Regions from separate parts of the Homo sapiens genome. Here region 2 is linked to region 1. Evidence: fine-mapped expression QTL. A gene starts in region 1. The other region holds a variant in brackets. All regions are shown on one strand. Distances are between the middles of the regions.

Region 1 (15,167 bases):
CTTCTCAGGGTCCCACATGGCCTCATCCTTGTGGATTTCCTCCTGTCAGATCCTCGTTTTGGCAGTGGCTTTGTATGTGTCTGTGACAGTTCTCTATCATCATATCCATGAACTTCATGAAATTCCCCAGCCTTAGACAACTTTGCAGTTTGTACTTTCAGTTTCATCGGCTCAGGACGAGCCTGGCAGGAAGACTGACAGGTGGGACGCAGGGATGCTAGAGCTAACTGGCAAGGGGCTTAGGCGGGGACTGGTTCTACAGGTAAATATGTTTTCAGTGGCATATATTTCTGTGATGGTGTCTTTTGCTCCCCGAAGCCATGGAAAGCAGGAATTGAGCCTTGTTGTTTAATTTGGGGACCAGAGTTGGGTGACGAGCTCCTGCCCTCTCGGCTCTGTTTATCCATGCAGGCAGCCCTGCTTTTGATGTCCCCAGGTTCACGCTGGGCTTAATGACCTCCCTTCTCATCCAGCTCAGGCCCAAGGTCAAAGGGCAAGCCCTGGTTCTCCATCCCCAAGGCTTGTGGGAAGATCTGAAACCATGAAAGCCCACAGTGGTTTTCGTGAAGCCTCAAAATGAACGGTGCCATCAAGAAACAGAGCCAGCAGAGTGCTGGGGAGAGGGGAGGTCCGAGCACAGAGAGAAAGAAGGTCTGTTGAAATGGCAAGACCAGGAAAAAGGGAGGATTGGGAGGTTCTGCGCCCGCAGCAGGCAGAAGCCAAATACATACACTGTCACCCTCTGGAATCTGAAGCAGGCTCTCCTGGACTTCTTGGCTGGAGAGGGAAAGACCCATATAATTTTCCAGTTCTGCCAAGTTTGGGTACAAAACTGATAGGGAAAGAAGGAAGAATAAATGTGTCATTAGAGGACATGTGCTTCCCTATGCCTGCCTGGCTCCCCTGTGGCTGCTCATTTTTATTAAGAAATGGAGCCTGGGAATGGTATTTATTTCCAAGACTGTGGGGTATCCCCAGGAACACTCACTGATGAGCGCTCCTCAGAGGGCCCAGGTGCAGGGTAGGACACCGAGTCCTCATGCACCACTTTGCTATTCAACTCCACTGACTTTATTTGACACCCAGAAACCTCTGCATCCCTCAGCGAATGGTTCCCACCAGGACTGGCAGGGTCCTAATCCCTTCTTATAAGGATTTGTGTCCTTATAAGAAGAGACAACAGAGGGCTCATGCATGCGCTCTCATGCTGTATCTCTCTCGTGTTCTCGTTTTCTCTCTCTCTTTTAAGCAAGTACACTGAGGAAAGGCCATGTAAGGACTCAGCCAGAGGGTGGCCATCTGCAAGCCAGGAAGGGAGGCCTCACCAGAAACTGAATTGGCCAGAACCTTGATCTTGGGCTTCCAGCCTCCAGAGCTGTGGGAATATACATTTCTGCTGTTGAAGTCATCCAGCCTATGGTATTTTGTTATGGAAGCCTAAGCTGAATAAGGCAAGTGGGGTTCTGGCCCCTTCTCTCTTTGAGCCGCTATCTGCCGTCCACTTCTTCCCCACCTGCCCCCACCCCAGGCCAGCCATAGTTCCAGCAAGGAAGTCTGACAAGTGTGGTATTTCATTCCCGGGGTCACATGAGATTGGATCACCAGAATGGTGCTGAAATGCTGATTTGAGGTGACTCAAATCGTTTATATAGACAGAGGCCCCACAAATGATATCACATCCTCAAGGCAGCCTTGCTGGGGGCATCAGAGAAGCCATAGCTTCCCTAACTTGAGCTGGGTTTGGAAGGATAAACAGGGGTTCACCAGGCAGTCAAGGAGGGAGGGGAACAGCATGGGCACAGGCTCTGGGAGGTGAGGTGACTCAGCCCAGGTCACCCAGGCAGTAAGAGGTGGGTGGCAACTGGAAGCCTGGTCCTCTCTTCCCACCATGTTGAGTCCTTAACCCTGGAGCCTCCCATACCTTTGGCATTGCCAAGCTTCCCTGATGATCTCTTCCCTGAAAGGACTTGGCACCCAGGAGCCCCTCATCCCAGCCCACTCACCTGGTGGTGGGGAAATGGCTGTTGCCTGGACTGGCAGGGCTGGCATCTTGGGTGAGGCTCTGACCTGGGCCTGGGGAGGAGCAGGGAGCACTGGTCAGCTGTGGCCAGGACCCCAGGAACCCCAGAGCCTGGAGCTCCATGAGGCCAGGGTCTGGGCATTAGGGGTGTGAGTGGGCCCGGGGTGTGGGGGGAGTGTGCACCAACCCTCAGGGCTCAAGATCACGTAAACGTGGCCTCCGCAGATGTGTCTTTTCCTGGGAGGAAGTTCTGGGGGACTGTGACCCACCCTATGTCACAACCCATTTACTGCCTGCAACAGGCAGAACATCAAGGCCCATCTCCCAATCAAGTTCTCAGCTGAAAAGTCTCCATTTCTCAAAACCCACTGGAACCACAGAGTGCTGGGATGGAGGAGGAAGGGGGCTTCTGGGGGCTAAGCAGACCAATGCCTATGCCCACTAGTCTTGTTTCCTCTGAAAGCCTGCCTTAGAGCATGGAGCCCGCCCATCCTGGAGGGAGGGAGAGCTGGGCCTGGGCAGGACAGAGCAGGCATGAGAGAGGCATGCGTGCGCTGCTTGGTCTTTTCTATTCTTGCTGTAACGCCATTGGCATTGCCCCCTGGATGTCTTCTCTGCCCAGCAGGCCCTGCAGTGGACACCTACATGCCCTGAGGCCTACGGGAATCTCCAAGTGGCCCCAGTACCCAGCACCTTCCAGGGTAATCCCCAAGGTCCCCTTCAGGGAATCCAGGCCAATGGGGCCTGGCGACTTACCTGAATGGCTTGGTCCACTTTTAGGTCCTCTAGAGATGGGTACAGGGATGACATGGCTGATTCTCAGAACACCCTGCAGAGTGCAGAGGGTGGGGAAGGATAAGGATGCAGCTGATGCCCCCTTGAAAGGAGGCACAGACATCCGCAACAGCAAGCGGGTTGGAACTTAATATTCAAACAGAAAGGCAGCAGGGCACTTAGAATGCCTCCCCGAACTCCACCCCTAATCCCCTGTCGATATTTGAACTCTACTGTATTCCACTCATCTCCAGCCTCACTGTCAACTTTTAATCTTGGCCACAATGAAGTAAGACCAGTAGGAAATTTATAAAGACTCTCACACAAACTGTAGCAGAACTTAGACACTCAACAGGGCACTGCTCCAGAGGGAGGAGGGAATGGGGGGTGGAGAGGCACCATGAGCACTTATTTACTAAACACCTTCTCATTGTCCCAGGGAGAATCAGCAGGACCTCTGAGCAAGGTGCCCCGAGAAAGTGAAAGGAATGATGACCTCTTAAGAAATGTTTTATTCCCTTCCTGACGAAATGTGGGGAAGGAGCAGTCTGCCTTTCTGGGTTCCTTCCCTTTACTCACTAACCACTGGCTCTGTCACACCTCCAGGCTTCGCTGAGGCAGTCCACTCCAACTGGAGCCCCTGCCCAACCTCCTTGTCACCCTCGGTTCCTGTGGGACACGCCTCCCCTGGCTCCCAGGCAATACGGTCACTGCCCCTCCCACCCAGGACCCTGCCCTCCGGGACAGCTCCGGGACAGCACCGGGCCAGCCTCTTGCTTGAACTCGCCACTTGTCCTGACTGCAGTTCTGAGGGGTAAAGGTGTGTCCTATTCACCCCACTGAACTCACATGTGATGGGTACACATGATAAAGGAATGCCCGCTGGTGGCACAGGAAACTGAGGGTCCTGTGCCTGAGCGATGTGACTCCAGGCTTCCCAGGATCAGATCCGCTGGGCACCTCCCTGAGTGACCACAGGCACGCCGAGGACATACTCATCCATCACTGCTCCTTCTCCTCCCTCTGCACCTGCTGCCTTGACCCCTGTGTCATCCTTGGCCCCGCCCCCACTATCCCTTCTTGTCTGTCATCAAATCCCATCTCTCCCACATCCCGTGTTGTGCAGGTCCCCATCATCTCCCTGGCCCTCTCCAGGTGCCATAACACCCTCCAAACACACTGCTGCCTCCCCTCCTGCCGTCCTGCTGCTCTCCAGACAGCAGCCACCAGGCCCTTTGTGTACACACTTGGGATGTCATGCCCTGGCTGAAAGCCCGCCAGTGGCTTCCCTGCCTTGGGAATGTACTCTCCTTAAAGAGGCTCACAGGGCCTTCACGATTCCACCAGAGATTGGAACTGGTGGGCCCAGGGCCAGATGGAAATAGATTTTATTTGACCTTGTGGAGTACTGTAAACGTTCAGATTAGCAGCTTAAACACAAAGCTCAAGGTACTGGATTTAATAATCGAATTTCCCACTGCTCCCAAAAAACAGGAAGCTTTGGCAACCCTAGGCTATAGCAGAGTAGCTACAATTGAGTAGCAGCAGACTCCAGGGTGACCCAGTCCACCATCCTCTATTGGCTGTTACACCCAGACCATTGTACTCACTGGTGCCAAGTCCCAATAGATATTTGTTTGCAACCCTAGTCTACCTCTCCAGCTTCATTTCTTGCCTTACGTCCTTTCAGCTGCTACTTTCAACTCCAGCCACAATGAGCTACTTCCACGTCCTTGCATGTGATTCCCTCCTGTCTCTTTTGCATGTGTTATTCCTTCTATCTGGAATACCCCTCCTCTCCCTGCTCCTTGCTTGGCCAACTCCTAATAATTTTCAAGTCTCAGATCAGGGAGCTCCTCTTACAGGAAGCCTGCTTTGATTTGTGCTCCCCCTAGCCCCTGCTCCATGTCCTACTCCTGTTGAGTATTCACCACTCTTGTGGTTGCCTCTTTACTTGTCTGTCTACCTCCTTAGGAGTTCCAAGATGGCAGGAACAGGGGCTTCTCATTTGCTGTGAAGCCTCTAACCCCTAGCATGGAGGCTAGCTCAATAATATTGCCAGAAGCAACACATTCTACCTGGGCTTCCACTTTTCTCCTTGTAAAGTAAAGCTCTAGTATCCTAAGAACACCCACCTTCCTGGATGAAACAAGGACCAGAAGTCCCAAATGTGCCTCTCACAGTCCTGTTTTATTATTATTATTATTTTGAGACAGAGTCTCACTCTGTTGCCAAAGCTGGAGTACAGTGGCGCGATCTTGGCTCACTGCAATCTCCAACTCCTGGGCTGAAGCCATCCTCCCACCTCAGCTTCCCAAGTAGCTGGGACATAGGTGCATGCCGCCACACCTGGTTAATTTTTGTATTTTTTGTAGAGACAGGGTTTCAGCATGTTGCCCAGGCTGGTCTTGAACTCCTGGGCTCAAGCAATTTGCCCGCTTCGGTCCCCCAAAGTGTTGGGATTACAGGCCTGAGCCACTATGCCCAGCCTTTTGTTTTTAAAATCTGAATTAGTGCCAATATTTAAAAATCTGGAAACACAAAATGCGTCACTTCTTACTTGGATTGAAAAAAATATAAACATTTGGCAAGGCAAGAGCTGGAATAGTGCATGGCAACACTCACCCGGCTGAGTCACAGCCTACCTCGCAAATGGGGCTGTACGTGCTTTCCTGTTTCCGCAAGTACCCATCAGCCCTTCACTGATTTACGTTGCCTGCTTGGTTCCTGGAGGCAGCCAGTTCCAGACCCTGCCCTAGCCTGGCCTTTGGGGTAGAAATGACCATCCCAACAGGACAGGAATTTCCTGGGAGGGGAGGGAGTCTGGCTCTGACTTCCTTTAGACCACCTGGGGGAAGAGACCCCTTTGCTTATAGCCTTCCCCACTGTGTACACACACTATGAGATTTTTAATCTTGGGACAGTCCTGAGCAGCTATCATCTGCCAAAACATGACCTGCCACCAGGACCACGCATGAACAGCAGATGCGAAAATAAGCAGCCACTCCTGCCCTGATTTTCCTAACATTTAACCAGTAGAGCACTTATATTTTTGTCAGCTGTCCCCTGGGAGAGCAGGGAGTCAGAGATCCATTTCCTGGAAATCACTCCCGGGCCAGATCACATAACCCTTTTTCTGTGTCTGAGATCCTTTCACCACTGCCACCTTCTCTGGATCCCATCTTAGTGCTGGGATGCGGGGAAGTGAGAAAACAGGTACAGTCGTTCCTTGGGGTAGGTTCCAGGACAATGCCCCTCACTCCCCATCCCTCGGATACCAACATCCACAGCTGCTTATGTCCCTTACATAAAGTGGCATAATATTTGCATATAACTTATGCACATTCTTCTGTATACTTTAAATCATCTCTAGATTACTTACAATACCTAATGCAATGTAAATGCTAAACAAAGTTATATTTTATTTTTATTTGAATTTTTGTTGTTTTTTTTAATTTTTATTTTTAAATATTTTCTGTCTACAGTTGGTTGGATCCATGGATGTGAAACCTGGGGATAGGAAAGGCATACTGTATCCCCTGCCTTGTAGCAGCTCACAATATAATGGGGAATGGTTCCCTGCCAGCGAACATGCTGTGTTTCGTTCAATCATTCAAAACATTTGAGTGTCCACTGTGTGCCAGACGTGCTGGTCCCTCTGCTGTGCACATCATCCTCCTTGGTGTGATGCTCCTTCGAGGCTCAGTTCAGATGCTACTTCTCTGCTTGGCTTTTCCAGACTGCATGATACCCAGGCTGCCTGGCTGGGTCTTCCCATGTATTCCACCCCTGACCTGTACTGCCCCTGTTGCCAAGCTATTTATCAAATTATGTGATTAATATCTGGGTATTTTCTTACACTGGACCTCACTCATAAGGGCAGGAGCTCTGTCCCGTTCACACACGATCCTTCCCCGCCACGGCACTGCCCAGCACACATATGCTAGCAAAAATTATTTGACTGAATAAATCAGTGGTTTTCCAAGGAACAGATTGGAAATTTATGTGGGCATTTTTGGGTGTCACGAGACTGAGGGGACAGTCATATCCCTGTCGGGGGTGGGGGGGGCAGGGATATGAAACTCCTGTAATGGATGGGACAGTCCATTACAGTCACCATAACAAATGGTCCTGTCCCGCACAACTTTCAGATATCCTGCCAAACTTTCAAGTAAGCCAAAAATCCGTTATAATTGGTTGTACATACAATCACAATGAATTTTTCCCTAGTTTTAGTACACACTAGACTGTCTGGAAATGCATATATCAGGTTGGTTGTGGGGAGTTACACTTTGCTCACCATTCTGGAAAATCGCTGCCCACCCTGCTCCCCACGGGTGAGTCACCCGAACAGCATGCTCACGTCTGTGTACATGTGTAGCTGTCACAGTGACTCCGCGCTTTTATATAAATATATTTAGCCTTTGACTCAAGATGTCAGATATAAACTGTTGGCAAAATTCAGCTGAATATTGTCTTCTAGTAAACCTAAGCTGATTCCTAAGTTGGGTACAAGCGTGATCGGGTGTAAGCCAGCCTCAGCTTTTACAAAGTGAAATGCATATTCTTTTATTAGAAATTACTTTCATGTCCCTGCCTTCTCCTTATAAACAAAGGGCATCATATTGATTTTTTACCCGGGGAACCATCACCTGGGCTGCAGCCTCAGGACGAACCTGTGCCTTCCCTCTGTCTCAATTTCCTGCTTTGGGAAATAGGAGCCACAAGCCACAAACTCCATCCACCGCGCCACAGGAGCGAGGTCCAACGCAACGGTCCCTAGGGCCTGCCTCCAACCCAGCCTCAGTTTCCTATCTGTCACATCGTTCTATGATCTCGAAATGACTATAACCCCTTTCTTAGCCCCAAACCAGCCGGAAGCGACATCTTCCGGTTGCTACAGGTTACGGCGGTTGCTATGGGCTACGGCGCCTGCGCAGAAACACCGCCAAGCGACTCAGCAACTTCTAGAGCGCATGCGTTTCGCCCACCCAGGCCCGGGCGCGGTTAGGGGTGACTCCCACGATCCCTAGCGGCTGCAGAGTGGAACATGGCGGCCTCCTTGCCGCTTGCGTTACCAGAGTCCACCCGGCCTCGTGCTTTCTCCGGGCGCCCGTAGCTGGCGCCGGCATCCACAAAAATAGATCAGGTAAAGCAGCAGAGTAAGGCATAGGAAGACTTGGTCGGGCTCCGCGGCCCCTCTTTACCGGATTGGAGGCTGCGCGGGTGAAATCGAGCTTTAAACTCCCCTGGCCTCGGAACACCATTTGTAGCCTCTGAAGGAGGAGGACTTATAAGATTCTGTACTAAGGCAGCCGTGGGAAGGGAGGAGAACCAGGTCGGCCCGCGCGCTCCCGGCTGCTTTTGCTCTCCCTTTGGTTTCGAAAGCGTCAAGTCCCAAGGTATTTCCTACCAATTGTGACGTCACCCTTCCTCCCCCGTTTCTCACCCGTTTCTTGTCTGGCCGTGACTTCTGACCCAGTGTTGAGCTAAAAATGCCCCGCCCCACCCTACGCAGATTCACCCCGCGTCCCACCCACCAGTGACTGAGTGACTGGGCTTCTGCTGCCTAGGGAAGGGTTCTTGGCTTGGCCGGGCAAATCAATTCCCACAGCAAAATCAGACCGAAAGCCTGTTATGAGGGACTCAGGCAGTTGGATGTGGCGTATAGGAGGAAGGCTAGGGCAATCAGGAAGGTCTCCTGGAGGAAGGAAGAAGACCCTGACTGGGCCGTGTAGGATGGATGTTCAAGTGGGAAGAGAGTGTGCTATTCCAGGGACAGGGAGGCCCAGGCCTGAGAGTCCAGTTGCCTTCTGGATCCCGTTTACCTCGCAGATTATCCAAACTGGACTCGTGATTTTCCCCAGCTGTGCCGCGCCTCCCCAGCGGTCTCACTGAATCCACCCATGGGCTATGTCAGAAATCTGGGAGTTATCCTCAGCTCCTCCCTTTCCCTTCTGAAGCCATACCTACTTCTTGCCCTCAAATCTCTGTGACCTGACTTCTGGTAATGTTTCCATTCTCACCATCTCATTCTTCTCCACACTTATCATGAAGTTCATTTATTCCAGACTACTTTAGGTTGAGTCCTAAAAGTCAGCCTGCTAGTTCATGCCTCCATGCTTTTGCAGGTGCTATTCCCTCTGTCTTAAGAGTCATTCATGCCTTCTCTCTTTTCCTTGTTGTGAACTCTTTTTCCTCCAATTTAAAGCTTTCCCCCACCTGTACGCATGGAGATTGGCAAGCCTCCCTTCTCTAGACGACAGCATTTCTTGTATTTGCCTCTTCATCATATATTCCACAAGTGTTTGTTAATCACCTACTATGAGCAAGGCCTTCTGCATTTCCTAGGTTGGATTTCCACTGTGCTGTGTTTGTTTGCTCATCTCCCTCACTGGTCAGGAAATGTCACTCATTTGTTAACCCCCAGTGCTGAGCACAGTGCCTGGCACACAACAGGCATCCCATTACTATTTCTGAAAGGAGTGGAAAAGCAGGCACAGAGAGAAGAGAAAGCCTGATATCCTAAATATACAGTCTTTCTTCCCATGCCTGTCTGTGTTTGCAGTCAATAAGTAGAAAGTCTTTCGAAGAATAACCTGGGCCTGGAAAAGGAGAGAAACCATGGCCCTAACGAGTTAGGTTGAAAGGCTGCCTGGCTCCTATAATCTGACAGTGGAAGTTTGCTCAGTTCTGTGCTGATGGCTTCCCACAAGTAATTGGTTCCTCCGAAAGGAAAAGAACCCACCTAACCCCTCTCTCTCAGAGGAATTTTCCTCTCCCACAGCCCTTTCCAGATTTCCATCCCTGAGCTTCTGTACTTTTTGATATAAGCAATAACAACACCCACAACAAACCAATAGCTGGGCTTCGGAGATCAGCAGGGCTGACAAGGGGACTTCAGCCCCCATCTTTGAACTTAGAGTGAGAACACTCTTTGGAACACTTTGTTCCAAAGAGCTGAAGTGATGGAACTCCCACTCGTTCCTGTGGACAGCTCATCCGTCCTTTACAAGACAGTGCGCGGGAGGGAAGCGTGGGTTAGAGTGTCAGAGGAATAGCTCCTGGAAGGCCAAATTAGCCCAGGGATGTGGTGAGTCGGAATAGAAGAAGCTGTTGCTAGGCCACCAGCATGTACCCCCACTCCTCCTCTCAGTGCTGCACTGCCTGCTGGGGAAAAGCTGTGACTTCCTCAAGCAGACACGCCTGAACCCAGGCCCAGGCAGGGCAGGGTTCAGACTGACTGCTTCTGACTTGTGAGAGCACAGCATAGGCAAATCCCCTTTGAATGTCATTTCTTCCTTTGTAATCTGGATAACAATAGTTGCATCACAGTTGTCTGGAGACTGAAAGATTTTTAAAAAGAGTTAAGGTGTATATGGAAAGCATTTAGCACAGCACCTAGCACATAATAGGCATTCAGTAAAAGTTAGCTGTTTATTCATTGTTTCAGCGCTTACTTACTCAGCACCTGCTAAGTCTGAGTACTGTTCTAGGTATCAGCAGTGAAGGAAAGAAGACTTGGTCCCCAAATGTACTTTCTTTGGGGGAAGAGCTGGATAAATAGGCTTTGTGACTCTGTGTGCTGTGTTAGATGGTGGGAGGCACTGGAGAGAAAGAGCAGGACGGAGGGTCATGTCAGGAGGTTCAGAAGCCTTGCTGGCTGGGTGGGGTGACATTTGAGGAAAGGCCTAATGGGGTGGGCACGGCCATTGCAGAGCCTCTCAGGTGGGAGTTGGTGTTGTGTTTAGAGGACATCTGCCAGTGAGAAGCCAGTTGTGCAGAGAGGGAGTAAGGAGGAGTAGTGGGGAGGAAGCTGGAGAAGTGAGAGGGGCCAGATCCTGGAGGGCCTGGAGGTCATGGTGAGGACTTTGGCATTTACTGTAGTGAGATGGGAGCCACTGGGGGATTTGTAGCAGCAGAGTGCCAAGGTCCAAGGGTTATTTTGACAGGCCTCCTCTGGCTGATGTTTGGAGGATGGGCTACAGGGCAGGAGTGGGAGCAGGAGCCCAGGTGGGAAGTGATGGTGGTGGAATTGTCATGAGCTTGGGCCACTGTACGTGAAGCTGCCTGTCCAGTGCTCGCCCAGCCCATACCAGGCTCGTTTTCTGCCCCATTTTCTGAGACCCTGCTGAGGAGGGCATGCACTGGCTCCTGTGTCCAGTATGTCCTTCCATTCTCCTGACTTTGTGGGCTATTTTCAGTCTCCAGATGAAGAAACCAGTTCTTAGAAAGGTGAAGCCCCTGGCGCAGTTCCCCAGCAGGTGTTTCAGTGCTGTGGCAGGAAGGTTTTTTGATAGAAACAGCCTCAGGCCAGAGAAGTCGGCCTGAGCTGTGGATTCCTTGGGAGAAATGGGCTTTTTGCCTGCCTGCAGCCTCTGGTTTCGGCTGGAATTGGCCTTTCAAGGAGCAAAGTGTGGATCTCATCTCCTTGAGCACAGTCATGGGCAGTCAGAAGGCATCGGGGGCCCTCATGATGTCTGGGTGAAGAAAATCACTCAGCCCTTAATCAAACTTGGTCCAGGGCTGGGATCAGAAGAAGAAACCCCACTTCACACTTGACTGCTTGGAGTGAAGCACTTCGAAAGGAAGCTGCCTGGGAAGTCCCAGAAGGGAAGGGGCAGGGAGGGAAGGGGACAGGGTGAGAGCAGGTCTCACTCATCCCAATCCCAGCCAGGATTGGGTCAGGGCCCCCAGCGCTTACCTGCAGGCAAGGTGCTGCTCCACGACCTTCTCCAGCTGCTGCCGCTGCTGAATCTGTTTCCCTCCCTGAAACGTAGCCCTGTCTCTCAGCTGGCTTCCTGATCTGGGAAGGGTGGTGCCTGTCCCCTGTTCAGCTGACTCACCTTGGACTGGGATGGGCACAGGTGAGGGCTGTGGCTGGGTAAACAAGGCAGGTTGCCAGCCCAGAGGAGGCCTTTGGCCTTAGTCTGGATTTGGAGGTGGGATTAAGGCCCTCACAGCTGCTGTTCAGACGGTTATGAACCAAGACTTCTTGGCCTTTTCTTAAATAGCTCTAAATTTGGGTTGGACACCTAGTCCTGCTGATCGAGGCAGTTGGCTAGAGGGCGGTTTGTGATAGGTATCTAGGGGTCTAGGCCAGGATATTAAAAAGTGGTCATATCCTGTGACCCAGCATTTCTTCTAGGAATTTGTTACAGTGGAGTCACAGGGCCCATCCATCACTGCTGCTTCTAGTAAGGAAAATGTAGAAATCCCAAATGCCCATCTCTGTGGTCTGCTTGAATAAATCATTGTCTGTGGAAGATCACAGAGCTATTAAAGTCACTTAAGGAAGAAGGTATGAGGAAACATTTCTGAGATTCTAGTGAGATGTTGAAAAATCAATATTGTGAATCTCTTCTTGCATTTTGTTTTCATTTTTTGTAAAGTGGATGTGCGTTGAAAGCAGTCTAGGAGGACATACGCTAAAATGCTGAGTATCTCTGAATGGCAGCATTGAGGGTGAGGTTTTCAGTTTGTACTTTTGTGTGTTCCAAGGTGGTTTTTTTTTTTTTAAGTTAGCTTTTGCTCTGAATGCTCATGACTTTTGTAAGGGGGAAGCAATTAAGTTTGATTATTTTAATGGGAATTTAGAGTGGTTGTCTCTTGGGAGCAGACCTAAGGAGCTGTGTGCTGAGGTGGAGATTTTTTTTTTTATGGCACATTTTTGGTGTCTTAAATTTTGAAAAGTTTAAATGTACTACTTATTCCAAAAATAATTATATAAATTTGAACAGAAAAGGAGGAAGAATTTAGTTTAGATCCTGGTGGGTTTGGTTGGGTGAGGGTGCCTGTCGCACTGGGTGCCTGGGGAGGGACGAGGGACTCGTGTGCTGGGCAGTCCCATGAGGATTGACGCTGTACACACTCAGGGTGTGTCAGTATCTGGGCTGCTTCCTGGGCCAGGCAGGCCTACGTCACAGTTCCCATGACCCACCTGGCAGAGTTGCACTAGCCTTGGGTGTCAGATCTTGTGCCTGCCAATGAAGAGCTTACAGCCCAGAGTCCCACACAGGAAACACACAATAGGAATAATAACAAGAAAGACATTTGCCACTAATTCAGCACTTACTCCCAGAGAGCACAGAGATTCTACCCCTGGCACTTTAAAGGCATTATCTCAATGGCTTCTCATGCCATCCCTGCAGAGTAGGTGTGACTCACACCATTCCTCCAGGTGGGGACACTGAGGCACAGAGGCAAAGTTTCTCTCTCAAGTTAGCTGGAAAGTGGGCCAAGTTCATGTCTTCTCTTCTATGGGACATACTGTTTCAGAAAGCTGAGGTGTGGGGCAACCTCAGAGTAAGCTGTGTGGGCCTGAAGCTGAGGTAACGTGGGTGATGGACCCACCTTAGGTCAGGTGTCCAAGGCCAAAGCAAAGTGGAAAATAGAGATCCTAACTAAACCAAGCCACTCCTCCCCCACCTCACTTCATTCAGTCATGACCTGAAAGGGCCTTTATAGAAGAGGGAGGAGGAAGCAGGCCCTTCCAGGTAAGGGGCTTGCCTGTGGTCCCAGCATGTCAGCATGGAGCCCAGGTCCCCTAACTCCCACCTATTTAATACCTACAGGGACTCTCTTTCTATTCCCTCTTTGGATAGTTGCCACCCATCACTGACTTCCAGCCACCTGGAAATATCTTTCATTGGGCATGCCCTTGCTCGAACTCTTCAGTGGCTCCCTCCTGCTTCAGGGTCTGGGCTAAACTCCCAGGGCTGACATGGAGACCTCCACAGCCCACTCCCTTTATTACCTCCTCAGCACTCCCCCAGCACCTCTGCCTCAGCTGGACTGGGAGCCCCACCATTCCTGCCCCACTGCACACCCACTTCCTACCTGCCCTGACTCCATACCTTTGCCTGTCCTGCTGCTGCCCCTGGAACACCTTCTCCTGCCCCCACCCACCTAGCCACATCCACCACTGAGCTCCTCCAGGAAGCCTCTGGGATCCCCCACATCCATGTGGCCTCTCCCGCCTCTGACTCTGGATCAGACGCTCCTGTTCCATTCTTTAATAATCATCATCTTGTACTCATGTGTACCTTTTAGGCTACTAGTTAGACCCTAAGTTCCCTGAGGGCAGGGCCAAGTTATTAGCTCTACAGTGGTCATTCTTTTGAGACAGCATTTCGCTCTGTCACCCAGGCCATAGTGCTGTGGTGCAATCATGGTTCACTGCAGCCTCCACCTCCCAGGCTCAAAGGATTCTTCCACCTCAGCCTCCCTATTAGCTGGGACGACAGGTTCACACTGCCACACCTGGCTAATTTTTTTATTTTCTGTAGAGACAGGGTTTTGCCATGTTGCCCAGACTGGTCTCAAACTCCTGGGCTCAAGCAGTCTGCCTGCCTGAGCCTCCCAAAGTGCTGGGATTACAGGTGTGAGACCCCACACCCAGCCAGTTACTCTTTTCAAAATAAGGAGTGGAACTGTGCTCTGACCAGACAATATTTCTGCTTTGTTATATATTTGTATGAACAAGTCTAAAACTTTGGGTGGCCAGTAAACAGCACACACTCAGAAACTCCCTGGTAGCACCCATGGCACCCTGAGTAATCAACCACTAATGTCCTTCCTGCTGGGCCCAGAGGCCTCTCCGGATCCTCTCGTCATAATGCTGCAGGCAGCTACCGTCACCTAGAGTTGGCTCATGAGGTGAAGTCTCCATGCCATCTGGAATGGGTGCTCCATGATGGCAGGGGCTTGTCTTAACCCTGAGGCCTAGTACTATGCCTGGCACATAGCAGGCTCACAGTAAATTTTTTTTTTTTTTTTGAGATATGGTCTTGCTCTGTCTGCCAGGCTCAAGTGATCCTCCTGTCTCAGCCTCCTACGATCCTCCTGCCTCAGCCTCCCAAGATCCTCCTGCCTCAGCCTCCCACAATCCTCCTGCCTCAGCCTCCTGAATAGCTGGGACCACAGGCGTATGCCACCACAGCTGGTTAATTTTTGTATTTTCTGTAGAGATGGGGTTTTGCCATGTTGCCTAGGCTGGTTTTGAACTCCTGGGCTCAAGGGATGTATCCACCTTGGCCTCCCAAAGTACTGAGATTACAGGCGTGAGCCACCACACCTGGCCTCAGTAAATATTGACTGAGTGAATAAATGCCCCTCCTAGAAAAGTCAATCACAGTTAGAAACTTAAATGGCTGACCCTTATTTAAAAGATGGGTTGGGCTGGGGCATCCGATCTGAGTCCCAGCTCTGTGATGTTGCACATGTTACTAAACCTCTCTGAGCTGTAGTTTCCACACCTACCTTCTTTATAGACTTATCCTGAAGACTAAATGAGGTAACCATGTGAAGTACCTAGGACACAGCTGGCATTTAGTAAATGTTAGTTTCCTACTTTCTCATGGCTACATGTCAC
Region 2 (15,160 bases), 36 kb after region 1:
GGCTATTTTCTAGATCTTGTAAGCATGCTTCATTCTTTCTTATTCTTTTTTCTTTTGTCTCCTGACTGTATTTTAAAATACACTGTCTTCAAGCTCATTAATTCTTTCTTCTGCTTGACAAATTCTGCTGTTAGGAGACTCTGATGCATTCTTCAGTATGTCAGTTGCATTTTTCAGCTCCAGAGTTTCTGCTTGGTTCTGTTTAATTATTTCAACTTCTTTGTTAAATTTATCTGATAGGATTCTGAATTTCTTCTCTGTTATCAACATGATTTTGTTGAGTTTCTTCAAAATGGCTATTTTGAATTATCTATCCAAATATTCATCAATCTCTGTCTGAGATTGGCCCCAGGTGGGTCCATAGATGTCGTCCAGAAGGCAGGGCCTGTAGTTGGGAACCTTAGGAGTCTACCTGATGCTCTATTCTACTGCGGCTGAGCTTGCATCCAAGCCACAAGACAAAGTCCTTTCCACTATTCCCTCCCCTTTCCTCAGGCAGAGGAGTCTCCCCATGGCCACCACTGTCCTAGGCCCGTGGTGAGTACTGCCTGGCTACCACCTATGTTCATTCAAGACCCAAGGGCTCTTCAGTCAGCTTATGGTGAATGCTTGTAGTCCTGATTCTCTCCTTTCAGGGCAGTGGGCTTACCTCTGGCCCAGTACAGGTCCAGAAATGCCATCCAGGAGCCAAGACCTGGAATCGGGGCCCCAGAGTCCCACTTGGTACTCGGTACTCTACCCAACTGTGGCCAAGCTGGTACCCAAGCTGCAAGACAAAGTCCCCTTTACTCTTCCCTCTCCTTTCCTTAGGCAGAAGGGGTCTCTCCCTGAGGCCACCGTAGCTGGGAATGTACTGGGTCACACATGAAGCCAGTGTGGCTCTGAGTCTCACCCAAGGCCTGCGGCCAGTACTACTTGGCTAACACTGCTGATTATTCAAGGCCAAAGGGCCCTTTAGTCAGCAGGTGATGAATTTTGCCAGAACTGGGTCCTTCTGTTCTGGCAGTAGGTTCCTTTCTGGTAAGTTTAGAAATGTCATCCAGAAGCTAGAGCCTGGAACGAGTGCCTCAGACCTCTGCTTAGTGTCCTATTCTACTGTGGCTGAGCTAGTATCCAATTTGCCAAAAAAAAAGCCCTGTTTACTCTTCTCCTCCTCTCCTCAAGCAGAGGGAAAGAGTCTTTCCTGGAGCTGTAAGCTGTGCTGCCTGGAGTTGGGGGAGAGATGACACAAGCACTCCCTTGATCACCCCAGCTGGTGTCTCACTAGGTCACATGCCTCCCAAGTACACTGGCTCCGAACACAGCATAGCACCAGGACTTGCCCAGGAATTGCAGTCCTTCTGGTCCAGACGGCCTTCCAAATTTATTTAGGACCCCAGAGCACTTTAGCCCACTTTGGCGGGGTTTGCCAGAACTCACGTTCTGACTGCTGGGATGGATGATTTGCCCCTGGCTAGGACATGGGCACTCGCGAAGTTCTGCCCCGTTGCTTTCCACTGTGAGAGGGCGGCACTGAGTTCCATTGCAGTGTCCCACAATCACTGTGCTCTCTTCCAGAAGTGCACATATTCTCTCTCCATACCACACTCAGTGCCTCTTTCTTTAATATGATTTTAATATCAAGTACTGTAATCACTTGTCTGATTTTTGGCTCCTATGAAGGTGCTTTTTTGTGTGGATCATTGTGCAATTTGGTGTTCTTGCAGGGTAGACAATTGCTGGAGGCTTCTTTTCAGCCATCTTGCTCCACCTCCTCCTGATTTGCTAGTATTTTATTGAGGAGTTGTACATCTGTGTTCCTGAGAGATTGGTTTTTAATTTTCCTTTATTATAATATCTTAATCTCGTTTCGGTATTAGGGTAGTGCTGGCCTCATAGGATGAGTTAAGAAGTATTCCCTCTGCTTCCGTTTTCTGGAAGAAATTGCAGAGAATTGATACTATTTATTCCTTAAACATTTGGTTTCACCAGTGAAACCAGTGAAACCATCTGGGTCTTGTACTTTCTTTTTTTGGAAGGTTACTAATTATTAATTCAGTATAAAACCAGCCTTGCATTTTAAGAATGAGTGAGAGGCATACAGTTTAATTCCATCACAACTGATCAGAAAACATACTTCACATAACTTCAATTATTTTAAATTTGTTAAAGTTTGTTTTATGTCCCAGGATATGGTCTATCTTGGTAAATGTTCCATGTGCACTTGAAAAAAAAATGTGTATTCTGCTGCTGTTGGATGGAATGTTCTAGAAATGTCACTTAAATGTTGTTGCTCATGTTGTTAATTTCTTCTAATCTTTGATGATTTTTTTTTTTTTGTCTAATGGTTCTATCAGTTAGTGATAGAAGGATGTTGAAGTCCACGCTGTAATTGTGGATTTATCTATTTCTTCTTTCAATTCTGTCAGTTTTCACATTATTTTATAACTTTGTTGTTCAGTGCATACTATTTTAGGGTTGTTGAGTCCTCTTGGCTTGGGGTTTGCTCATTTTCTTAAATCTGAAGATTTACACCTTCCACCAAATTTGGGGAGTTTTCAGCTATGATTTCTTTAAGTATATTTTCAGCACTGCACTCTTTCTCTTGTCCTTATGGAACTTCAATAGCTCTAAAGAGTATTTAGATCTTGGAGTATTTTCCCATAGGTCCTTAAAGTCCTATTCATTTTTAAAAAATCTATTGTCTTTTTTTTCCTCTGTTCAGACTGTGTAACTTTTATTGGTTTGTCTTCAAGTTCAATGTTTCTTTCCTCTGTCATCTCCACTCTGCCATTGTGTCCATCCAATGAGTTTGTTTCTGTTATTGTGTATATATATATATTTTTAAGTTCTAAAACTTCCATCTGGGGCTGGGTGTGGTGGCTCATGCCTGTAATCCCAGCACTTTGGGAGGCTGAGGCGGGCAGATCACTTTAGTCCGTGAGTTTCAGACCAGCCTGGGCAACATGGCGAAACTCCATCTCTATAAAAAATACAAAAAATTAGCTGCGCATGAAGGCATGTGCCTGTAGTCCCAGCTATTCACGATGCTGAGGTGGAAGGATCGCTTGAGCCCAAGAGGTGGAGCTTGCAGGTGAGCTGAGATCACGCCACAGCGCTCCAGCCTGGGTGACAGAGACAAACCCTGTCTCAAAAGAAATAAGTTAATAAATAAAAAATAAAATAGGCTGGGCACAGTGGCTCACACCTGTAATCCCAGCGCTTTGGGAGGCTGAGGCAGGCAGACTGCTTGAGCACAAGAGTTTGAGAGCAGCCTGGGCAATGTAGTGAGACCCTGTCTCTATTTTTTTAAAAATGATTTAAAATAAAATAAATCTTCCATTTGGGGTTTCTTTTTCTTTTTTTTTCTTTTTTTAAGATGGAGTTTCACTCTTTGTTGTCCAGGCTGGAGTGCAATGGCACAATCTTGACTCACCACAACCTCCGCCTCCCGGGTTTAAGCGATTCTCCTGCCTCAGCCTCCCAAGAAGCTGGGATTACAGGTGCACGCCACCACGCCCAGCTAATTTTGTATTTTTAGCACAGACGGGGTTTCTCCATGTTGGTCAGGCTGGTCTCAAACTCCTGACCTCAGGTGATCCGCCCACCTTGGGCTCCCAAAATGCTGGGATTACAGGCATGAGCCACCGCACCCGGCTGGGGTTTCTTTGTATCTTTTATTTATTGAACCTTTGTTTTTTGAGTGTTCATAGTTTCTTGTTAAAAGTGTTTTTGTTTGTTTTTTAATGATAGCTGCTTTAAAAATCCTTGCCAGACAATCCCAACATCAGTACCATCTTGGTATTGGCATCTGTTGATTGCCTGTTCTCATTCTGGTTGACTTTTTCTGTTTTCTGACATGACAAGTAATATTCAATATTATCAGTACTTTGGGTATTATGAAACTCTGATTCCTTTTTATATTTTCTACTTTAGCATGCATTCAACCTGCTTCAATTCAGAATGCACATCATGACTCACTTCTGTGGTCTGTGAGTTTGAATGTCAGTTTGGTTTCAAATTCAGCGTTATCTTGGTCTGCTCTGCCTGTGTGCTACCCAGAGACCAGTGGATACCCAGAAACCCGAGTGGTATTCCACAGCATAGCTCAGTTCTTAAAGCTTTTGCTGTGTTAATTCTGATGAGTTTCACACATAGGCCACTTGGGGATGTGCACAAATTGAAAGACGCTTTTTCCGCAGCTCCCTCCTCTCTGTTATTCTGCCCACACTCTCTGTGAGGGGGTAGGTGCTGCCTCTGTTACTGCAGGACAGGTGGTAGTCAACAGGGCTCTACCCTAGAGTGTCCATAGCATCCCATGGGAAGAAGGAGGAGGGAGGGGGTGTCACCTCTTATCCCATTAGTGCAGGATGGGGCTCATTAATAGAGCTCCACTTGTCTCCAGAATCACTGGTGAGGAAGGGGAGTGTTGCCCCCACATTCGTGCACAGCAGGGATGGTTCACCGAACTCCACACCAGTCTCTGCAGAGCCTGTTGGGGAGAGGAGGGCTGTGGTTTCTTTGATGGTGTTCACCTGGAGTAGAGCAAGTATTGTCAAAAGGGTCATCCTCGGAGGTTGCAGTGAGCCGAGATCGCACCATTGCACTGCAGCCTGGGAGACAGAGCAAGACTCCATCTCAAAAAAAAAAAAAAAAAAAAAGGCCATCCTTCATTACTGTCCTCTTCTAGGTCCTTTGACTAGAGAAAGCATTTTCCTTAGGACTTTTGTTGTCTGTGCTTGTTGGTCATTTCAGATTGTGCCTTCCTCTAGTGCCCAGGTTGAAATACGTGAACACTACGAAAGCCTCTGGGAACTCCCTGCCAGGTCATCCCTTGAGACTTAAGTTTCCTTGCCAGTCTGCCTAGTTTACTTCACCTTTAGAGGTTTCTGATAGTTGCTTTATGTATTTTGTCTAGTTTTTAGTTGTAATTAGCAGAAGGAATAGGGTGGAGTCCACTTACTTTATCTTGTGTGAACATGGAAGCCCCATGTATTTTTTAAATAAACTTTTTGAGGTGTAATTTACATGAAATAAAATGTACCCATTTAAAGTATACATTTCCATGAGATTGACAAATGTGTATATCCATGTAACCCTAACCACAATCAAGATATAGAACACTCCCATTACCCCAAAAGGTTCCCTTTGTCTTCCTTCCTAGTCAGTTTCCTCCATCCTGAGCCTCAGACCTGGCCTGATTTCTGCCAGTGTAAGTTGAACTTGTCTTTTCTAGAGTTCCATATGAAGAAAATCACATAGAACGTAATGTTTGTAAAAGTCTGGGCCGGGCACGGTGGCTCACGCCTGTAATCCCAGCACTTTTGGAGGCCAAGGTGGGTGGATCACAAGGTCAGGAGATCGAGACCATCCTGGCCAACATGGTGAAACTCCATCTCTACTAAAAATACAAAAATTAGCTGGGCATGGTGGCACATGCCTGTAATCCCAGCTACTCAGGAGGCTGAGGCAGGAGAATCGCTTGAACCAGGGAGTCGGAGGTTGCAATGAGCCGAGATCGCGCCACAGCGCTCCAGCCTGGTGACAGAGTGAGCTTCCGTCTCAAAAAAAAAAAAAAGTCTGGTTCCTTTTACTTATTATAATATCTGTGAGATTCATCCATATTGTTGGCATTTCAGTAGTTCATTCCTTTTTATGTTTGTTTTTGCTTTCATTTGAATTGTCACTATCCTATGCTCTTGCCTGACAGACCCTGAGAGCCTACTGACCACAGCAGCTCCTGTTACCACGGCTGCCGTTTCTGCTCTCAATGCTACTGCTCATTGATCCCAGGGAGGAAAATTCTGGTGCATCACTTAGTATTTATTTCAGGTATGGTTAGGACATTTCAGAATAAAGGATGGCTTCTTCTGGATGTATCTGAATTGATCTGCTGTCATATACTTATGAATCACATGCTCAGACCAAAGTACATAAAAAAGTCATTCTCTTTCCAGACAATTTTAGGGGTTTGTAACCTTGGTCTTATATTGCTCCATGGCCTATGAATTAGTAACAGGACTAGTGAAATTCCTAGTAACATAGTCCTGTTACTACAAGATTACCCATATCCTTTGATGATCCATCTACTGCAAACTCATAGAATTTACTGGACAGTCTTCTTCATTTTATGTAAGAATGACCACTGTATCATCATATGTCAATGTCCTGCATAACTGTCACCACCCCTCCATGCCGAATACCTGGTAGCTTGTGATGAGTTGAGAACCTCACTAAACAGTCTTATCCACATCCTCAGGTTCTCTGAGGTTTTCCTTCTGTCCAGTCCATGCACTTGTACCCCTGGTGGTCGAAGTACAGTCACGCACTGCGTATGATGTTCTCATCAGTGGTGGGCTGCATACACAGCAGTGGTCCCATAAAACCATAATGAAGCTCAAAAATTCCTATTGCCAACTGGCATAACGTCATGTAGTGACACATGACCTTTTCTATGTTTAGATCTGTTCAGATACACAAATCCTTACCACTGTATTCCAATTGCCTGTAGTATTCAACAGTCACTGTACAAACCTGCTGTATAGTTTTGTAGCCTAGGAGCTACAGGTTGTACCGTATAGCCTAGGTGTGTGGTAGGTAGGCTATACTATACAGATTTGTGTAAGTATACTCTATGATGTTCACACAATGGTGAAATCTCCTAATGACACATTTCTCAGAATGTCTCCCCATCACTTTGGCCAGCTGACTCAGTTTGTGATGGCAATTGTGAGACCAGTTGAAGGGCGATCTGACCTGTATATTCTCTTGGTTAATTGTATTTACAAATTGGATACATGATTTCTCTGATTGCTCTCTTCACAAACTACATTTGAATATACAAATGAAGTGCTAAGTGGTTTTTATACAGGGAAACAAAGCCAGTTTTGTTTTCTACCAATGCAAGTTTGGATAAATTCTTTTCAAGAAGATGACTAAATATTTCCCATTTAGCAAAGTCCTCAGATAAAGAGATGCCAGGTATTTCTCGTTATGTTGGTTTCTGTATTACTATCTGTTCAGACACAAGCGTCCTTAAAAATGTGCTTAGTTGTAATTTCTTCATAGATTTCAACCAAAACAACATATTGCAAGATTGAATGCAGAAGTAGATGTGAGAACTCATTCTATTAAGCCAAGCGTAAATGTTTAAAAATGTAAAATAATACCACTCTTCTGATATGTTTTGGGAGAAAATATGTTTGTGGAAAATATACCTATCAAAGAAATATCAGAAACCTTCCAAACTGAAGGACATGTGTATCCAGATTAAAATGACCTTCCAAATGCTTAACATAGTAAACAAAAAACAGGAGGAAAAGGAGGGGAGAAAAGAAAAAAAGAAGACTCACACAAGGCCGTGTTACGACATTTCATCATACCATAGATAAATCAGATCCTGAAAGATTTCAGAAAGGAATATGAGATCACACATAAAGGAACAGGAATCAAAATGACATTACCCTTCTCAACAACACTGGAAGCTCCAAGAGAGTGCAGCAATGCTTTCATCCTCAGAGAAAATAATTATCAATACAAAATAATATTCCCAGCTAAGCTATCAATCATGAGGGTAGAAGAAAGGCATTTTTAGCCATTGCGTGGGAGTGCTATAATAATGGTCCCAGTGAACCACACCTCCCTGTATCCGCACCACTTTGCAATGAGAAATTTGCTGTTTCTCCTAGTGAGAGAGGGAGTCTATTTCTTTACCCTTGGGCCTGGGCTGGCCTGGTGACTTGTTTTGACCAATACATGGAAGAAGTGACATTATGTGAGTTCTGCAGCTGAAGCTTTAAGAGGCCTTGAAGTTTCTCCTCACCTTCTTGGAACCTTGAGACCACCATG[C/G]TGTGAGAAGCCTGGGCATATCTACTGGAGGCCGAGGGGCCACATGACACGTCTAAAACTCATACGTCAAGATATGGTAATATAATGTGAAATTCCTAGAGCAGCTTAATGCTAGTCTCTATTTGGCTACCTTTTTCTTTAGAATTGCTTATATAGTTAGTGTATGAGATTTTTTGTTATATTTTGCAAATATTTTCTCTCCATTATAGCTCATCATCTTTTAGCTTTGTTTATGGCATGTTTTTATGATAGAGAAGTTTCATTTTTTATTTTTAAGTGGTTACATCTATTAATAATTTCCTTTGTGTCTCTGAGGTTTTGTTGCTTAAGAAGGACTTCTCAAAGATTTAACCTTATTTTTTACTTAAAGAGCAAAAAAAAAAACAAAAAACAAAAAACAAAACACGATCACAATATAAGCCAGTATAAGCAACTGGTTCGTGCAGGATGGTGGTAGTTATCAAAGAGAGCGGGGGGTCTAAAGCTCTAAGGAGTCGTCTGGAGAAAGCCAGGCAGAGACTTGCTGCTTTTCTATTCTACTTCTTTCCCTTCTCATCCAGCTTGAAAGCTGCACCCATCAAGTGCGTCCTGAATCTGACGATTCACTATCTTCACTTCCGCCAGTCTGCTCCAGGCCTCCATCCTTTCTGGCCTAAATGAACCCCAAAGCTGGCTTGTGTCCTGCATCCATCCACCACTCTTGCCCTTGTTTCACTTATCTATTGCTGTGAAATAAACTTCAAAACCAAGTGATTCAGTCTCACAACTCTGGTTTTCCTGGGCTGAGTGGGGTGGTTCCTCTATTCATGTGATGTGGCTGGAGCTGTGGGCATTTGTGGGCTTGAATGGGCTGAGTGTTCACCGTGGTTCATTCACATGGTGGCAGCTGGCTAGGTTCTCAGCTAGGACGATGGCCTCTCCATGTAGCTTGGGCTCAGAGCTAGTGTTCTGAGAAGGAAGTAGAAGCTGGCAGTCCTATTGAGGCCTGGGCTTGAAGTCCCAGAACATCCTTTCCCACTGCCTTGTAATGATCAAAGTAGTCACAAGGCCAGCCTAGATTCAAGGGCTTGGAGGAATACTACCTTTCAGTCAATTTCCCAGTTTCCAGAGGATTTTAAAAAAACAAACGGCTCGACACAGTGGCATGTGCTACTCGGGAGGCTAAGGTGGGAGGATCGCTTGAGCCTGGGAGGTTGAGGTTGCCGTGAGCTGTGATTACACCACTGCACTCCAACCTGGGTGACAGATCAGACCTTGTCTCAAAACACTCTCCCCAAAACAAATAGACATAATTCTCCTGCTGGAATCCACTGCTCACTAGACTTACATTGTAATAGCCTGCCTCACCTGGCCCCTGCCTAACTCTGTCCCTCACACCTTTGCTCTGTCTCTAAAGGTCATACTGCTGTTTCCCCAGCACCCCAAACTCACCACCCTTCAGGGACTTAGCCTAGAACAATTTTCCTCCAGGACTTCACTTGGCCACTTCACTCCATTGCTTCCAGACGGCTGGCATTATTTGCCCATCTGTTTTGGGTCTCCTTCACTGGCATGAATGTAAGGTCCTTGCCAGCAGCACTTTTCTGTCCTATCCTACATTCACTCTTAGCATCTAGAATGGTGTTATCACAGGAAAGGCATAAAAGTATACTCTGTGGTTAACTGAATTTACTTGCCTAAATCTTGGGCATGTGATGCTTTGAGAAATATACAAATTAATGTTAAACAGAACCACAGTGGTCAGTAACAGGCACATCCAAGGATACACTAGTCCTGCATACATACCCACTGGCATGTTTCTACCTTCCTAATAAGAGCTGACAGCCGTTTTGCTGCATGCTGTACAGGACAGCTGCTGCTGCAAACTCAGCCTCTGATGGGCCCATAGTCGATGTGCCCACTGCATGCCTTGAACTCAGGGAATTCAGACGAAATCATCACACACTCCAGCCAGAAGCTAGAGGGCTGCCGGCCTTGACATTTTAATGCATTTTTGGTGTCAGCTGCCCTTCACTGATTCACTCAATTCTAGAGGTCTGAATGAGAATCCCTACACGCTTCTCAGGGGTTCTGAAGAAGCCAGTGTAGCCCAAGGTCATCAACCCAAGTGAACCCACATTTATCCAGGAAGCAAGAGGTGTGGCAAGGGCAGAATTCTAACAGACATCCATTCCACATGTGTCAGAGACAAAACTAAGTCCAAGATAAAATCGACAAAGGCTATTTATTCATAAACGTGCAGCAGGGGAACCCTTCTGCTGAAACCTTTGTTTTGGTAAGTGTTCAGAGGTGTTAAGACGTTATAGAGTAAAAAGGAGAAATACTGACAGTGTTGACTTGGCAAATGTCATATAAGGGTAGGATTTGTGGAAGCAAGCCAAGAGACAAAGTGGTCTTCAAGTACATTTGACTTGATTAGCTTCAAGGAGGCAGGTGAGCAGTCTGGGACCATTTCAAAAGAGGAAAGGGGCGGAGAGTTTTCTGTGGCCAGCCATTTCCTGGAAAAAGTGATGGTTGATGGGATGCTTTTTTGCAGTCTATCATCATGGTTCTTAGGGGTGTAAAAAGTAAAGTGAGGTTCCTCTTCAAAGACTTTCCTCCCTGTCTAATTAAGAATAAATAGTAACTTCTCTTAGGAGCAAAACTTATTCAAAGACCTGTGCTAACATTCTTAAATATCTGCTAGCCGTAATAAAGAAATCAATGTACTTTATGTTCTTAGCTCCCACAATTTAGCCTATTTGCCCTGGCAATGCTTATACTGGTCCAAGCAAGCATTAGGTCATAGCCTGTTCCTCTTCCTTATCTGAAGGTGTTTTTACGTTTCTCAGCATTCCACAAGTTACTTCCTCCTTCATTCTCCTCTGCCTTTGCCTCTTTTAAAAAGTTCTAAGTTGCTAGCCAATCAGGACAAATACAGAATGTGAGGTCCCGTTCCAGCCAATGGAAACTGGACACAGCAGTAAAGTGGACTTGTCAAGTTATAAATGACCCTGTCTCCTTTGTTCGGTGTTCTCTCGTGGCAAAACTGCTGGCGAGTGTACCCTTTCTGCAGAAAGTATAAAAATGACCTTGCTGAAGAAATTAATGTTCAAGTGCTATTTCTTTGCGGCACTGAAGAACAAGCATTTCAAACAGAGGGTAGGGTGGGGTGGTGGTGGTGGTGTTATGTGGTTGCCACAGCTAAGTTAAGTTTTTCACATGGATCATTAACTTTCAAATAATTAAAATTTTAGAGATGCAAGGTATCTTAAAGTTCATCTGGTCACTCTGACCACCCACATTCCCACTCTCATCCCAAGTTCATTTAATGGATGGAAAAACTCAAACAAAAGGTAGTTTGGCATCTAACCCTTAGCAAAGGTTAGATGTGGAATTAGAAGTTTTCCTGAATCCTAGGACTGTAGTATAACCATCATGCATTTCAAAAGTAAAACAAAAAAGGAAATTTAAAAAAAGAAAATACAGTAAGTAGCCACATAAACCGCTTCTAGCTGGGTCCACTGGTCCCCCTGCTTCTTGTTTATTAACGGAATCTGTTCAGGGGCTCTAGGGCTCAGAGCTTTAGGGGAGTCTGAGCCCTTCTCCAGCCCTGGGGTGATGGGTCTTGATTGATCCAGGTCAAATTCTCCACAGATTTAATTCTGGCCAATGAATATGAGAAGAAATGAGAAGGTGGAAAGGTGTCTTAGTCTACTTTTTGCTGCTATAATAAAAATACCAATACATGGGGTAAATTATAATGAAGAGAAATTTATCTCATGGAGTTCTGGAGGCTGGGGAGTCCCAAAATCAAGGTGTTGGCATCTGGTGAGGAGCTTCTTGCTGTCCACCCCATGGTGGAGGGTGGAAGGGCAGAAAGAGAGAGAGGGCTGGAGGCCAATAGGTGGCTGAACTCATTTTTTTATGAGGAACCCACTCCCATAATAACAGCATTAATCCACTCATGAGAGCAGAGCCCCCATGACCCAACCATTTCCCATTAGGTCCTACCTCCCCACACCCACTGCACTGGGGATCAAGTTTCCAACACATGGAACTTTGGGAGACACATTCACGACATAGCAGAGGACCACTGGAGAAAGGAAGGTTTTTAAAGATTTTTTTTAGGACACTATGGAAGTGATAGCCATTGGACATGGATGGTGTTTTTGTTTTTGGCATGGGAAAAGGCTTATACAACTCTGGTCAACTTGGCAACACTAATCAAAAGTCAAAATCTCCTTTGACCCTAGGGATCCCCTACTATTAACAGTATTATATCTTATAGAACCTAGGTATTTAGGAAAGAAAAAAATGTTCAAAGATGTATTGACATTTAATAAAAGCAAATAACTGGACATAACCCAGCTATCCAAATACAGGCTATCAGGAAACACTGTGAAGGACTTTGAAATAGGTCTTGCCCACTGCCCCCACCCCTGCCTCCAATTACTGAGTGTTCTGTCTAATCTAGCCCACCTTTCTGAGTTGATTCCCTTTCATTTCACTGCCTTTGAGCTACTTTACAATTACGTAAATTAAGGGAAACTGATAATGCAGATGATTCTTGTTCATAGAAATGCAAATTGTGACCAATGGAATATAACTGATTATTGTTCTGCAGGTATCAGCCAATTTTGCCAGTTTTGTAACTACGAAGCAAACTCATTTCAGCATTCCTGCTAGGCTTATAATTATTTGTTCTTTGGATTCTCCTTTGAGCCAATTAAAGTGTCCTACTGGTTCTCTCAATAATTAACAAGTTAAATACAATCATCTTTAACATGTTACTTTTATATTTGTATGAGTCATAATTTTAACTTCTAAAAAAATTATCCTTTAACAAGGTAGTTAAGTAAATTTAATGTTCATGTGGTATAATTTACTTAGCAGCCCTCTTAAAACAGTTATAAAAACCATATGGCAACAGGGACAAATACTCCTGATAAAAATGGCAAGTGGGGAAAAAAGCAGAAATGCAAAATTTGTACTACGTTGTGATTAAAGCTAAACGTTGTAAGTGCTTAGGGCAAGAAATAGGAAGGAGAAAAAAAATTGAAGTTGGATTTGTTTGTTAGGGTGGTAGGATCCTGGATTAAAAAAAAAAAACAAAACCCTGACATTATTCTGTTATACATTAAAAATAATATTGGCGGGCATGGTGGCTCACGCCTGTAATCCCAGCACTTTGGGAGGCCAAGGCAGGCGGATCACGAGGTCAGGAGATCGAGACCATCCTGCTAACACGGTGAAACCTCATCTCTACTTAAAATACAAAAAATTAGCCAGGCGTGGTGGCACGTGCCTGTAGTCCCAGCTACCAGGGAGGCTGAGGCAGGAGAATCACTTGAACCTGGGAGGCGGAGGTTGCAGTAAGCCGAGATCACGCTACCGCACTCCAGCCTGGGATACAGAGTGAGACTCCATCTCGGGAAAAAAAAAAAAAGTTGGCCCTGTATTAGTTTCCTATTGTTGCTGTTAACAAATGGTTTAAAGCAACACTAACTTATCACCTTAGTAATAAATTCTGCAGTTCTGGAGGTCAGAAGTCCAAAGTGGGCATCACAGGGCTAAAATTAAGGTATGGGTGGGGCTGTGTTCCTTTCAGGAGTCCTAGGGGAAAATCCGTTTCCTTGCCCTTTCCAGCGTCTAGAGGCTGCCAGCATTCCTTGGCTTGTTGCTCTCCTTCCTCCATCTTCAAAGCCAATAGCTTAGCATCCTCAAAAGTCTGTCCACCCTCACGTCGCCTTCACTGATGCTTATATGGATCCATGTGCTTACACTGCATCCGCCCAGGTAAATACAGATAATCCTCCTATCTCAGGGTCCTTACCTAACCACATCTGCAGAGTCCCTTTTGCCATGTAAGGTGACACATTCACAGGTCCTGGGGATTAGGATGTGGACATCTCTGAGGACTCCCATCCCCAATCCAGAGGATTTCCCTGAAATGCCAAGTTCAGTGAGAACAGCTTCCCATATGCCTGAGTGAAGGCACAATACTGACTGTGCGAAAGGACATAGTGTGGGACTCCATTTAAATTAAATGTCAGAACAGGCAACACTAGCCTATGGTGGAAAAGAATTACAATTACCACCTCCAAGGGCGGGGTGGGGTTGACTGGGGAAGGCCATATTGGAATTTTCTGGTATGGTGATGTTCTTTATCCTGGCAGGGGCACAAAAGTGTAAACAAACACTACTCTCTAGTCTAGTCAATGACACGTACTGGGGGAATTGTAGTGATGTCTGCCATTTACTCTGAAGAGACATAATGGATAGTTTGATGGACAGATGGATAGACAGGTGATATATAGATACAGTAACATGTTTATGATAGAATCTAGGTGGTGGGTATACAGGTGTTCATTTTAATCATCTTTGTGTTGTTTGAGAATTTTTATAAAAATGTTGGGGATGGTAAGATGTGACCCTGGAATATGACTCTGGCACTCTAAAAACCATAAATTAACAAAAAGAACTTAGAAAGCCATTAAGCAAGCTGTTGAATAATTTCCTTTTTAAAATCAATGGTTCTCAACCTGGGCAATTTTGGAAGGTGTCTAGAAAGGTGTGGGAGCATTCTTGACGGTCTCTAGAACTCTCAGTAAGGGCAAAGTGTTCCTGGCACCCAGGGCAGGGTCCAGAGAAGCTACTGCAACCACGCAGCCTCTCCACAGGACTGTCTTTCTACATTAAATGTTACTGAGGAATACCAATTTAAAATCAGAGTCTTCTCTTCGTATCTCATTAATTTGCTTGCAGTTGCTTGTAGCACATCTCCAAGTGGACTGTGACTCACTTCTCAAAAATGTGTTGTATCTCCCACTTTTCTGTAACCCAAGAACCCCGAGCATAGTGCTCTACCCAGAACACATATTTAATAAACATTTGGTAACAGGGGAGGGGATGTTCCCTGACTATCCCAGCTTGCCCTTTCAGGCAGCTCCTTTGATGCAAACCTACCCCACATTCCCCCTCCTCTGACCCCCAACCCGTTAATAGCCAGTGAGGAAGGATGTTCACTGCTGCATTCTTCTGCCAAGACACAATCTTGAAACTGCATCCCCACTGCCACCCTCCTTCACCCTGCCCAACCCCATCCCCCTGCACCAAATGGCAGGGGAGGCACCTGAAAATAACCACCATGACACAGAGCTGAGAAAAGCCGGCATAAAGCACTTTTATTGCAATAATAAAACTTGAGACTCATAAATGGTGCTGGGGGAAGGGTGCAGCAACGATTTCTCACCAAATCACTACACAGGACAGCAAAGGGGTGAGAAGGGGCTGAGGGAGGAAAAGCCAGGAAACTGAGATCAGCAGAGGGAGCCAAGCATCAAAAAACAGG

What was found.
Region 2: its variant is fine-mapped to the expression of SDCBP2-AS1 in whole blood (INTERVAL, PIP above 0.99).

The regions. Positions count from the first base shown.
Region 1 is chr20:1,317,587-1,332,753 of GRCh38, forward strand. It overlaps SDCBP2-AS1 (SDCBP2 antisense RNA 1), which reads left to right and starts at 7,757. Exons shown (of 3, transcript NR_040049.1): 1 at 7,757-7,943. It overlaps SDCBP2 (syndecan binding protein 2), which reads right to left and starts at 11,553. Exons shown (of 9, transcript NM_080489.5): 1 at 11,499-11,553; 2 at 2,777-2,849; 3 at 2,004-2,073; 4 at 732-832. The coding sequence starts at 2,830. It overlaps FKBP1A-SDCBP2 (FKBP1A-SDCBP2 readthrough (NMD candidate)), which reads right to left. Exons shown (of 10, transcript NR_037661.1): 3 at 2,777-2,849; 4 at 2,004-2,073; 5 at 732-832. LOC124904856 (a long non-coding RNA gene) reads left to right here and starts at 2,849. Exons shown (of 2, transcript XR_007067487.1): 1 at 2,849-3,614; 2 at 6,280-6,783. RefSeq lists enhancers at 7,819-8,048, 8,039-8,333.
Region 2 is chr20:1,354,010-1,369,169 of GRCh38, forward strand. The region is part of intron 2 of FKBP1A-SDCBP2 (FKBP1A-SDCBP2 readthrough (NMD candidate)); the gene reads right to left. All of the region lies in intron 1 of SDCBP2-AS1 (SDCBP2 antisense RNA 1), which reads left to right. It overlaps FKBP1A (FKBP prolyl isomerase 1A), which reads right to left. Exons shown (of 5, transcript NM_000801.5): 5 at 14,969-15,160. Among named protein-coding and RNA genes, the nearest start is that of MIR6869, 31 kb to the right of the region's middle. The variant C/G (reference allele first, on the strand shown) is at 7,828.